Regions from separate parts of the Homo sapiens genome. Here region 2 is linked to region 1. The links come from fine-mapping of genetic effects on gene expression. A gene starts in region 1. The other region holds a variant in brackets. All regions are shown on one strand. Distances are from middle to middle. Region 1 holds the start of IDI1 (isopentenyl-diphosphate delta isomerase 1). Region 2 overlaps GTPBP4 (GTP binding protein 4).

The links.
Region 2: its variant is fine-mapped to the expression of IDI1 in blood mononuclear cells (TOPMed, PIP above 0.99). The same link has a PIP of 0.9 or more in whole blood.

The regions. Positions count from the first base shown.
Region 1 is chr10:1,047,003-1,052,378 of GRCh38, forward strand. It overlaps IDI1 (isopentenyl-diphosphate delta isomerase 1), which reads right to left and starts at 2,117. Exons shown (of 5, transcript NM_004508.4): 1 at 1,862-2,117. The coding sequence starts at 2,001. RefSeq lists enhancers at 1,364-1,894, 1,895-2,424, 2,116-2,165, 2,425-2,954, 2,626-2,765 and silencers at 1,706-1,795, 1,806-2,025.
Region 2 is chr10:1,007,017-1,012,392 of GRCh38, forward strand. GTPBP4 (GTP binding protein 4) reads left to right here. Exons shown (of 17, transcript NM_012341.3): 10 at 2-112; 11 at 1,942-2,019; 12 at 2,513-2,564; 13 at 3,404-3,504. Among named protein-coding and RNA genes, the nearest start is that of IDI2-AS1, 13 kb to the right of the region's middle. RefSeq lists enhancers at 1,602-2,102, 2,103-2,603. The variant A/T (reference allele first, on the strand shown) is at 2,910.

The sequences.
Region 1 (5,376 bases):
CTGCTCCACTGTCTACACCACACAGCCCAGCTGCTCCACTGTCTACACCACACAGCCCAGCTGCTCCACTGTCTACACCACACAGCCCAGCTGCTCCACTGTCTACACCACACAGCCCAGCTGCTCCACTGTCTACACCACACAGCCCAGCTGCTCCACTGTCTACACCACACAGCCCAGCTGCTCCACTGTCTACACCACACAGCCCAGCTGCTCCACTGTCTACACCACACAGCCCAGCTGCTCCACTGTCTACACCACACAGCCCAGCTGCTCCACTGTCTACACCACACAGCCCAGCTGCTCCACTGTCTACACCACACAGCCCAGCTGCTCCACTGTCTACACCACACAGCCCAGCTGCTCCACTGTCTACACCACACAGCCCAGCTGCTCCACTGTCTACACCACACAGCCCAGCTGCTCCACTGTCTACACCACACAGCCCAGCTGCTCCACTGTCTACACCACACAGCCCAGCTGCTCCACTGTCTACTGTCTACACCACACAGCCCAGCTGCTCCACTGTCTACACCACACAGCCCAGCTGCTCCACTGTCTGGTCCTTTGTCTACACCACACAGCCCAGCTGCTCCACTGTCTACACCACACAGCCCAGCTGCTCCACCGTCTGTCTACACCACACAGCCCAGCTGCTCCACTGTCTAGGTCTGCGTCAGCGCACTCTGCTTCCACAATGATGAAAGTACCTAACAATGAACTTCTCCAAAGTATCCCTGTTAAGTGATGCGGGCCGAACGTTAAATTATCATCTGTAGATGATCTCTTATAGTATCTAAAACATGTAAATCCTACATAAATAGTTGTGCTGTATTGTTTACAGAATAAGTCTGTATATGTTCAGTACAGATGAAATTTTTTTCCAAATATTTTATAATGTGCAGTTGGTTAAATCCATGGATATGGACCCCAAGGATACAGTAGGCCAACTGTATATTAGGTGATCACTAAGATAGGTTTCGTTACTACATAATTACTAGACTTTTTGACATGACTTTTTTTCCGGGGGGATGGGGCTGGGTCTTGCTATGTCTGTCGCCCAAGCTGGAGTGCAGTGGCGCGATCTCGGCTCACTGCAGCCTTCGACTCCGCCTCCCAAAGTGCTGGGATTAAAGGCGTGCACCACCGCCCAGCTGTAATGACAATTGCTCTTTCAGGATTTTCAGAATTCAGATTTTAAAGCTAAGCTGCATAATCACAAGATAAAATGAATACGTCTATTTATGCGTTTAAAGAATACCATGTAGTAGACGCGGGAACACATCATCCAACCCAAGAAAAAGGTCTAGTTCCATCTATGCGATGCTCCCCATCTCTTCTCCTGCTCCATTCCCAGGAGAAGCGCCTTGAGTGTGTTGCTGTCACCCTCTTGCACGGACGCAGGTGTATGCACCCGCGTCACACGCGTGGACTCGGCACGGGGAGGCCGGTGTCGTCACGCTCGTGTTTCTGACGATGCTGTCTACGCTTGTTTCTGAATTCTCTAAGGGGAGACTCGCAACTCTTAGTCTCCTGCGACTCGGTTTCCAGTTCCACGAGTTCCTAAACCTCAGGTGACTGTGCGCAGACGACGATCTTTTCCGCTGACAAAGAATGGCAACGTCTCTGACGCCCCGACTCACGCCTCCGCCTTCCACGGGGCGCGGGCGCCCACCACAGCCCGGGAAGGCCCGGCCTCCCTCCAGTTCGGGAGACCAACGCCGCCACCCCCAGCTGTCCAGGCCTCCGCGCCGAGACCTCACGGGTGGCTCAGACCTCGGGCCTCCTCCCCGCCCCGTCCCGCAGCTCCCCGATGCCGCCCTGCCCCTGTCTCCCGAACTCCGCCGCCCGTCCACAGTACCTGATCAGCCTCCGGCCACAGACAACCGCCGGTCCCGGATGGCGCCCGCTTTGAGCACAGTCTGCGGCGCGCACCGCCCACTGGCCCCGCCCCCGGGCCGCGCAGCCAATCGCTCGCGCCAGCGCCAGTCCACGCCACATCGCCCGGCCAATTGGCGCCCGTACGCGCTTGACGACACAATCTCGCCAAGCTTCGCCTGGTGGTGCCACCTCCCTGGCCTGTGACAACGGCAGACGCGCGAAGCACCGGGAACCTGAGCCGTGACCGCGGGCTCTGGCGCCTTTAAGGGGGTCAACACGCCCCACCCCCAGTTCCGCAGAGGCAGCGTCCCGCGACTGGGCGGTGCCCGAGACCACAGACGCCGCCAGCCAATCACGCTTTCGATCCTGCCGTGCGAGCCCGAGGCGCTGCGAACGGTGCCTAACGTCAGACGTCTCGAGGCTCGCGTTCCATGGAGGAAGCCCTCCCAATCCGAAAGCGCCCGGGCGCCAAGCCCTGCAGCCGGAAGCTCGGCGTCCCATGGGAGCGACCTCCGCATGGCTGGACCAATGGAAACGGAGGAAAGGCGGGACGTCACTGCTGACTGGCTGGTTGGGCACTCCCCCCCCTCCCCCCCCCCGAGTTCCGCCGCTGGGACTACAGCGTTTGGCTGCACGGGGAGTTCTCGTATGTCTAGAACGATGGCCTTTCTGCGGTGTCTGCGACCGGGACCAAGGCGGAGCAAAGTCGCCGGGGGTGTGGGGTGTTCCACGCTATGTTGGGAGTGTTCGCTTTCGAGGTACATGACTACGTTCTAAATTTTTTTTTTTTGAGACAGTTTCATTCTTGTTGCCCAGGCTTGAGTGCAATGGTGCAGTCTCCGCTCACAGCAACCTCCGCCGCCCGGGTTCAGGCAATTGTCCCGTCTCAGCCTCCCAAGTAGCTGGAATTACAGGCATGCGCCACCACGCCCGGCTTATTTCGTATTTTTAGTAGAGACGGGTTTCCGCATGTTGGTCAGGCTGGTCTGGAACTCCTGACCTCAAGTGATCCACCTGGCTCAGCTTACCGAAGTGCTGAGATTCCGGGTGTGAGCCACCGCGCCTAGCCCTCTAAACTTTTAAATAATCGTGAAATGTATGCGCAGCTGAAGCGAATTCAGCTATTTCCTCTACCTTTTGTGTGGAATTTAAAATACTGAACTTGTGAGATGAACCTGGTGGGCACCAGTTCTCAAACTTCTTGGTCACAGGACGCTTGCACTCTCTTAAAATGTACTGAGGACACCTAAAAGCTTTTGCTCACTGTTGTTTACTACTGCTATTTACTAACATAGAAATTAAACATATTAAAATATTCACTTAAAAAACACACGACACTAACATAAGTTATATTTTTATTAAAAATCTTTTCCAGACAAAAAACAGACTTTGATTTTGTTTTATGTGTTGACAGATCTCTTTCATGTCTGGCTTCACACAGATAAGAAAATCTGGCCTCCCGCATGCGCAGCAAGTCCTCACTGCTGTCAGTGCGTTCTTGGGAATCAGGACTTTTAAGTGAAACAACGTATAGCAAAACCAATTTTACCAGAGGCTAAAAAATAAGGATTAAGTTCCTAAAGCATACTTCTGGCCAAGGAAAAAAAAAATCACTAAGCTTCTAAAGGCCAAAGTATTCTAATATTAAACATTGAAATAAATGTGAGCTATACATACATTTAAGAAAGATGAATAAAAAGATAATTATTACTTAATTATTCCAGTTCTGGGTCATGTGTAGCTGAAGCCTGTTTCAGTAGCTCAGGGCACAAAGAGGGAACCAGCCCTGGACAGGACGCCATTCCATCACAGGGCCACTCACACACCCACACTCAGACTGGGACAGTGAAGACACACCAGTTCACCTCACGTGCACACCTCTGGGATGTGGCAAGAACTGCAGCACCCAGAGAAAACCTATGCAGGTGTGGCGAGAACACGTAAACACCACAAAGACAGTGCCCCTGGCTGGGAGTCTTTTTCTCATCAATGTTACAAAGAAATGAATGAGCACCTGCTGTATGCAGTTTGAAAATTGAGAAGTATTTTTTAATAGCCTTTTCAAATTATCTTGGTTATTCTTTTTCGATACTACTACCCCAAAACACGAGTGGTGGATTTTCCAATTACTATTTGGAATTTGAAACCACTTCAATGGACATTTTGTACTTGTTACATTAAAACTCATTATTTTTGACTGTACCTCGAATGCCTATTTTCCTGTGCGTGATGTTGAAATGTCATGCATTGGTCATTTGGAAAATACTGATTTACTGAATTAAACAGATCTTCCAAATGCTAAAACATTTCATTATTCAATATCAATCACATTGTTAATATCACTAGTAATCTCATCAGAAAAGTTTTTAAGTATTGGGAAGCTAAAGTATTGTAGCACTGGCTTCCACATAAAGTCACCAAGTTCTTGATGGTTTTAAGTTTGTTTTTTATTTGAATTTTTGCATGAAAATTCCAACATTATTGGCAACAAGTACTGAGAATTATGTTCCTTGAAGTGGCACGAACATATTTATTTTCACGAAAATGTCTGCCAAATATCTAGGTTTGAATACCTCAGTTTATCTGTCAGTTCTTTCCAGTAAAAGCGGTATTTCATGAAAAAAGCAGCTAGTTAGTTCAGCTTACAACTCAAACGTTCCCACAAGTTCTTTTCCTGGAGACAACAATCATAATTCAGCATGTAGCAGAAGTGCTTTATGTGCATTTCCCATTTTGTTATAGAGAATATTAGATGAGTACTGAATGGTCGAGATGATTAAAGTTAATATTTTTTACTGCTAACCATCAGCTGAGCCTTCAATGAGTCATAATCTTTTTGCTGGTGGAGGGTTTTGCCTCAATGTTGATGGCTGTTGATCAAGGTGGTGCTTGAAAGTTGGGGTGGCTGTTGCAGTTTCTTAAAATAAGACAATAATGAAATTTGTCACGTTGATTGACAATTCTTTTCATGAAAGATTTTTTTTAAACCACAGGAAAACTTTTTTTTGAGACAGAGTCTCGTTCTTTCGCCCAGGCTGAAGTGCAGTGGTGCGATCTTGGCTCACTGTAACCTCCACCTCCTGGGTTCAAGCAATTCTCCTACCTCAGCCTCATGAGTAGCTGGCACTATGGGCGTGTGCCACCATGCCCGGCTAATTTTTGTATTATTAGTAGAGCTTGGGTTTCACCATGTTGGCCAGGCTGGTCTTGAACTCCTGACCTTGTGATCTGCCCACCTTGGCCTCTCAAAATGCTGGGATTATAGGCATGAGCCACCGCACCCGGCCAGGAAAACTTCCAAAGTTAGAGTCAATCCTCTCAAACCCTGCTGCTACTTCATAAACTAAGTCTATGGAGTATTCTGAATCCTTTGTTATCATTTCAACAGTGTTCACATCTTCACCAGGATTAGGTTCCATCTCAAGAGACCACTTTCTTTGTTCATCCACAAGAAGCAACTGCTTATCCATTCATGTTTTATTATGCTAGTGCAGT
Region 2 (5,376 bases), 40 kb before region 1:
GGCTTGCGATAGGCTTTTGGCTCATCGAGTGGAAACCAAAATGAAGGGAAATAAAGTGAATGAGGTGCTGAATAGACTGCACCTGGCTATCCCAACCAGGAGGGACGATAAGGTAAGACGGCCCCTGGGACAGCCGTGGGCTCACAGTACTGTCAGCAGGTGCTGTCTGCGTGCCTTTTCCAGAAGCCTCCCATCCAGCTTCACACACTCGCAGGTGGATATTGTGGGTGGGCCTCAGTTTCACCTTCTTGCTTACATAAAGGATCGAGAAGGTGAAGAAAGTGCAGAACGCCACATGGCACCCGTTTCCCACTGCATGACGTGGTCACTGTTAGTTTATCCTTCCAGAAATGTTTCTGATATAGAAGATTAGTTTCTAAAAAGTTCTTTAAACACAGATGGAAATCTGTTTCATTCTTTAAATTTTCATTTTTTTGGCTGGGGGAAGTAGCTCACGCCTGTAATCCCAGCACTTTGGGAGGCCAAGGTGGGAAGATTGCTTAAGCCCAGGAGTTCTTGACCAGCCTGGGCAACATAGTGGGACCCTGTCTCTATAAAAAATAAATAAAATAAATTTTCATTGTTTTGTCCATTGTGAATGGGCACACATCGTTACGCTGTGTCTTCATGTTTTACTGCAAATGTGTCTGCACTTCACCATGTGGTGTTGACAACGTTCCTGTCCCACAGACGCCTTCCTGGTGTGTGCTGCACTGACGCTGGAGGCTGTGTCCTTCCCTCTGTCTTTCCTTGTGTCCTCGGCGTGGTCGGGCACTGACTGTCAGTCTTGTGTAAAGATGATTTTATTGTTGTGTGTTTATGTAATGCTGGGTGCGGTTGAGCATGTTTGTCTGCTTATTGGCCTTTTCAAAGTTCTTTAGGCTGTTTATCTTTTTCTCGCTGATTTGTTACTTTTGTATTACAAAGGTTGGATTCTTGTCAGATACATTGCAAATTTTTTTCTCTTTTTGTCACTTGCCTTTTTAACTTCAAATGTGCTGTACATTTTTGAACTATTAACATATATTAATTTTTTTTTCTGGGTGTTCAGGTTTGCATTGTACATAGAAAGGCTTACCATTCATTCCAAAGTCATTTTAAAAGTATCTTTTCTTGCTGGGTGCAGTGGCTCACGTCTGTAATCCCAGCACTCTGGGAGGCCGAGGCGGGTGGATCACCTGAGGTCAAGAGTCTGAGACCAGCCTGGCAATCATGGTGAAACCCCATCTCTGCTAAAACTACGAAAATTAGTCGGGCGCGCACCTATAATTCTACCTATTCAGGAGGCTGAGGCGGGAGAATCGTTTGAACCTGGGAGGTGGAGGTTGCAGTGAGCCGAGATCACTCCACTGTACTCCAGCCTGGGTGACAAGAGTGAGACTCTGTCAAAAAAAAAAAATTATCTTTTATACTAGCATTAAAAATTAGCTTTTTTGGATAGTCTTCACCGTGTCTTGAGTTGGTTATGTTGTGAGGGTGGAGGTTGCACTCCGTTTCAAGTGGTCGGCATTTCTGACCTGAGTATTGGAAATTTTATGTTTCCATTGAATTCTTATATGCACTTGAGTTTATGTCTAAATTTCTTTCATCTGTTGATCCAGTGTTATTTCTTACCACTTTCTTCTTCCATAATTTTTCATGATAATCATGATTTCTGTTTTTCCTGGATAAACTTTGGAATCACTTTGTGGAGTCCTCCTGGTCTCTGTGCTCAAAGTGACCCTGAACCCACTCCTCTCCCCTAAAATAATCTGTTGGTTGTTAATTGGTCTCGGTATGAACCCACTCCTCTCCCCTAAAATAATCTGTTGGTTGTTCATTGGTCTGGGTATGGTTTTCTGTTCCCCTTGCACGTAGGGAATTTGTTTCTACTTTTTCGGCTTTGTAAGTTTCTCATTCAGCAGGCATTTCACATAAATATTTTATATGGGATCTTCTCAGGAGAGGCCCCCTTTCATCCCTGAAGGAGTGGTGGCTCGCAGGAAGAGGATGGAAACTGAGGAGTCCAGGAAGAAGAGGGTATGCTGCCGAAGCTCTCGCCCAGTGTTCTCATGGGGGGAGGCAGGCTGTGTGTGCCCATCGTGGGGGCCTGGGGCATCGAACAGGAGCCGCGGGTGCCCAGACACTGGCCCCGTCAGGCTGCGGACACAGCAGTGAGTCCCCCTGCAGAAGCCTCTCTCATGGGGCTCTTTGGCCTGAGGGAAGATGGCCGTGAACCAAATGCATGAGTGGGATAGACAGTCCCCAGATGGCCAGAAACAGCCTCTTCCTACCAGAACCTAAAGGCCGGCCCCACAGACAGGGAGATAAGAAACAGCCTCTTCCTACCAGAACCCAAAGGCTGGCCCCGCAGACAGGGAGATAAGAAACAGCCTTCCTACCAGAAATGGAAGGTGAACCCCACTGATACTGAGAGGATTGGAGAAAAGATTGTTTCAAGTGACAAGGGGCAGAGCATTTCTGGATCTGAAAGGCAAAATGAAGCTGATGATAATTTCTCTTTCTATTGCAGGAACGAGATCTTGAGCTGGAAATGGGAGATGATTATATTTTGGATCTTCAGAGTAAGGGCCAGAGTGTGATCATTATTATAAAATGCCAATTGGACGTGAAGTATTTCAGAAAATGGGGGAAAGACTTTAATAAGTAATAAAAGTGTTTCAGCCTATTTGTCAACTTTTAATTTCTTGAAGATTAAAAGTTGCATCCTGAGGGCCAGGTGCAGTGGCTCACGCCTGTAATCACAGCACTTTGGATCCCTTATGCCCAGGAGTTTGAGACCAACCTGGGCAACATGGCAGAACCCCGTCTCTACAAAAAATACAAAGATTAGCCGGGTGTGGTGGCATGTGCCTGTAGTTCCAGTGACACGGGAGGCTGAGGTGGGAGGATCACTTGACCCTAGGAGG[A/T]CAAGGCTGCAGTGGGCAGAAATTGTACCTCTGCCCTCCAGCCTGGACGACAGAGTGAGACTCTGTCTCAAAGAAAGGTGCATGCTGATAGCACTCAGTGGGGGTTCTTCCATTGTTTCCTGTTGTTTTGGGATGGTGGGGTGATTTCTGTAGCTTTCTCCACGTGTGGGTGTTGAATGAGGCTGATGTGTTGTTTCCTGTTGTTTTGGGATGGTGGGGTGATTTCTGTAGCTTTCTCCACGTGTGGGTGTTGAATGAGGCTGATGTGTTGTTTCCTGTTGTTTTGGGATGGTGGGGTGATTTCTGTAGCTTTCTCCACGTGTGGGTGTTGAATGAGGCTGATGTGTTGATGCTGCTGCATGTGGAATTGCACGTCGTGCTCTCTTCTGCAGTGGAGTCGTTGATTTGCCGTCAGTCACAACTCATTTTGCGCACGTAGTACTTGAAGATATTAAAAACTGCTGTAAACGTAACCACCTTTTTTTTAACTTTAGAGTACTGGGATTTAATGAATTTGTCTGAAAAACATGATAAGATACCAGAAATCTGGGAAGGCCATAATATAGCTGATTATATTGATCCAGCCATCATGAAGGTTTGTGTCACTTTTTAAATTGCGGATTGTTTTCCTTTTTATTATAGTAGTATTGCTGGAAGATAGCAGCATGGCTTCGGCTCAGCTGGGCCTGTCCGCTTCATTCTGCACCCCTCCATCCTGACTCTGCCCCCTGTACCACTTCCCCACCCTGAGACTCTGGTGGAGATACTGGCCCTGGCTGGGCTCTGCTATGCTGGCCTGCCCCCTTCCCGCCGCCTCCACCCACCCACCCCGGACACTCTGGTGGAGATGCTGGGCCCCTTCGTTATCCTGCACCCCTCCATCCTGACTCTGCCTCCTGCACCTCTTCCCTGTCCCGACACTGGTGGAGATGCTGGGCCCCTTCATTCTCCTGCATCCCTCCATCCTGACTCTGCCCCCTACACCACCTTCCCCACCCCGAGACTCTGGTGGAGATGCTGGGCCTCTTCATTCTCCTGCACCCCTCCATCCTGACTGTGCCTCCTGCACCACCTTCCCCCCCACCCTGTGTCTCCGCCAGGCCCTGGATGGGCTCTGCTGTGCTGGGCCCTTCATTCTCCTGCATCCCTCCATCCTGACTGTGCCTCCTGCACCTCTTCCCCCCACCCCGAGACTCTGGTGGAGATGCTGGGCCCCTTCATTCTCCTGCATCCCTCCATCCTGACTGTGCCCCCTGCACCACCTTCCCCACCCTGTATCTCCGCCAGGCCCTTAATGGACTCTGCTGTGCTGGACCCTCTTCCTTGGGGGCTCCGCTGTGTCACATCTTTTTCCTGCCTCAATCCCCTCCCTACTTGCTTTTTCTTAGCATATAAAAGTCCACAAGTTTTACTCATCTTTTTAAAAAACGAAAACATCCTTAGACCGTGTCCTCCATTAGTTGCTATCCTGCCTTCTTCTCTCAGCTGAGCTGTCTGAAACATGCTAACATGCTTATACAATACTTGCTGTCCTGCCTTCTGCTCTCAGCTGAGCTCTCTGGAACATGCTTTTTATACAATACTTGCTGTCCTGCCTTCTTCTCTCAGCTGAGCTCTCTGGAACATTCTTTTTATACAATACTTGCCATCTGCATGTCCCATGTTGCCACTCCTTGGTTCCCACAGGCCCTCCGTCATTGAGTTCACATTTTCAGTCTCGTGGTCTCTGTGCTCCCTGTGCCTCCATAGCAGATTCTGGGATAGCAGATTCTGGGGGCAACAATCTCAATTTCGTTGGTGCTGGAGGAGTGGCCTCAGGGCATCTGCTGTCACCTCTGCTGGGGCCCCAGTCCAGCCCGTGCCCTCACTGTCCCCGCGGTGGCCGCCTGCCTTCCCAGCCTCTTCCCCTCTGCAGTGCGCGCTCTTGGGCGCAAGAAGCCTTGAGACTTCCCTCCTCCGCACAGCTGTGCCCGTGCCATCCCCTTCCACGAGGCCTGGCCCCCGTCTCACCCTCTGCACTGCTGGCCAGCATCTCGTACAGGCACATCTGCCTGCTGGGCTCCTGGCCGGGTTGCCTCATTGGGGGGTGATAAACGTGTGTGTTTTAGTTTTCATTTTTGTCTTATTTGTAGCCAGTGAGGTTGTATTTGGGGTGACATTAGAACGGACACGTGGGATGTGGCACGAAATCAGTGTCTCAGGACTGAGTTCCTTGTGTGTGTCTGCCGGGAGCATTGGAAGTGAAGGAGGCGGTCTCTGCACATTTTTAGCCTTGGAATTTAATTGTTTTAAAAAAAGGAAATGGTGCACAGGGGTTACTGACTTGCTGGCGGCTGGCGTTCACGTGGTCTCCATTTTCTTCACAGAACCCTCCCTGTGAGGTAAATGGCACATAGGCAGGGCCCAGGTGGGTCTGGACCAGGGCAATCGCTCTCCTCTGAGTCAGGGAAACAAAGCTCCCATACAC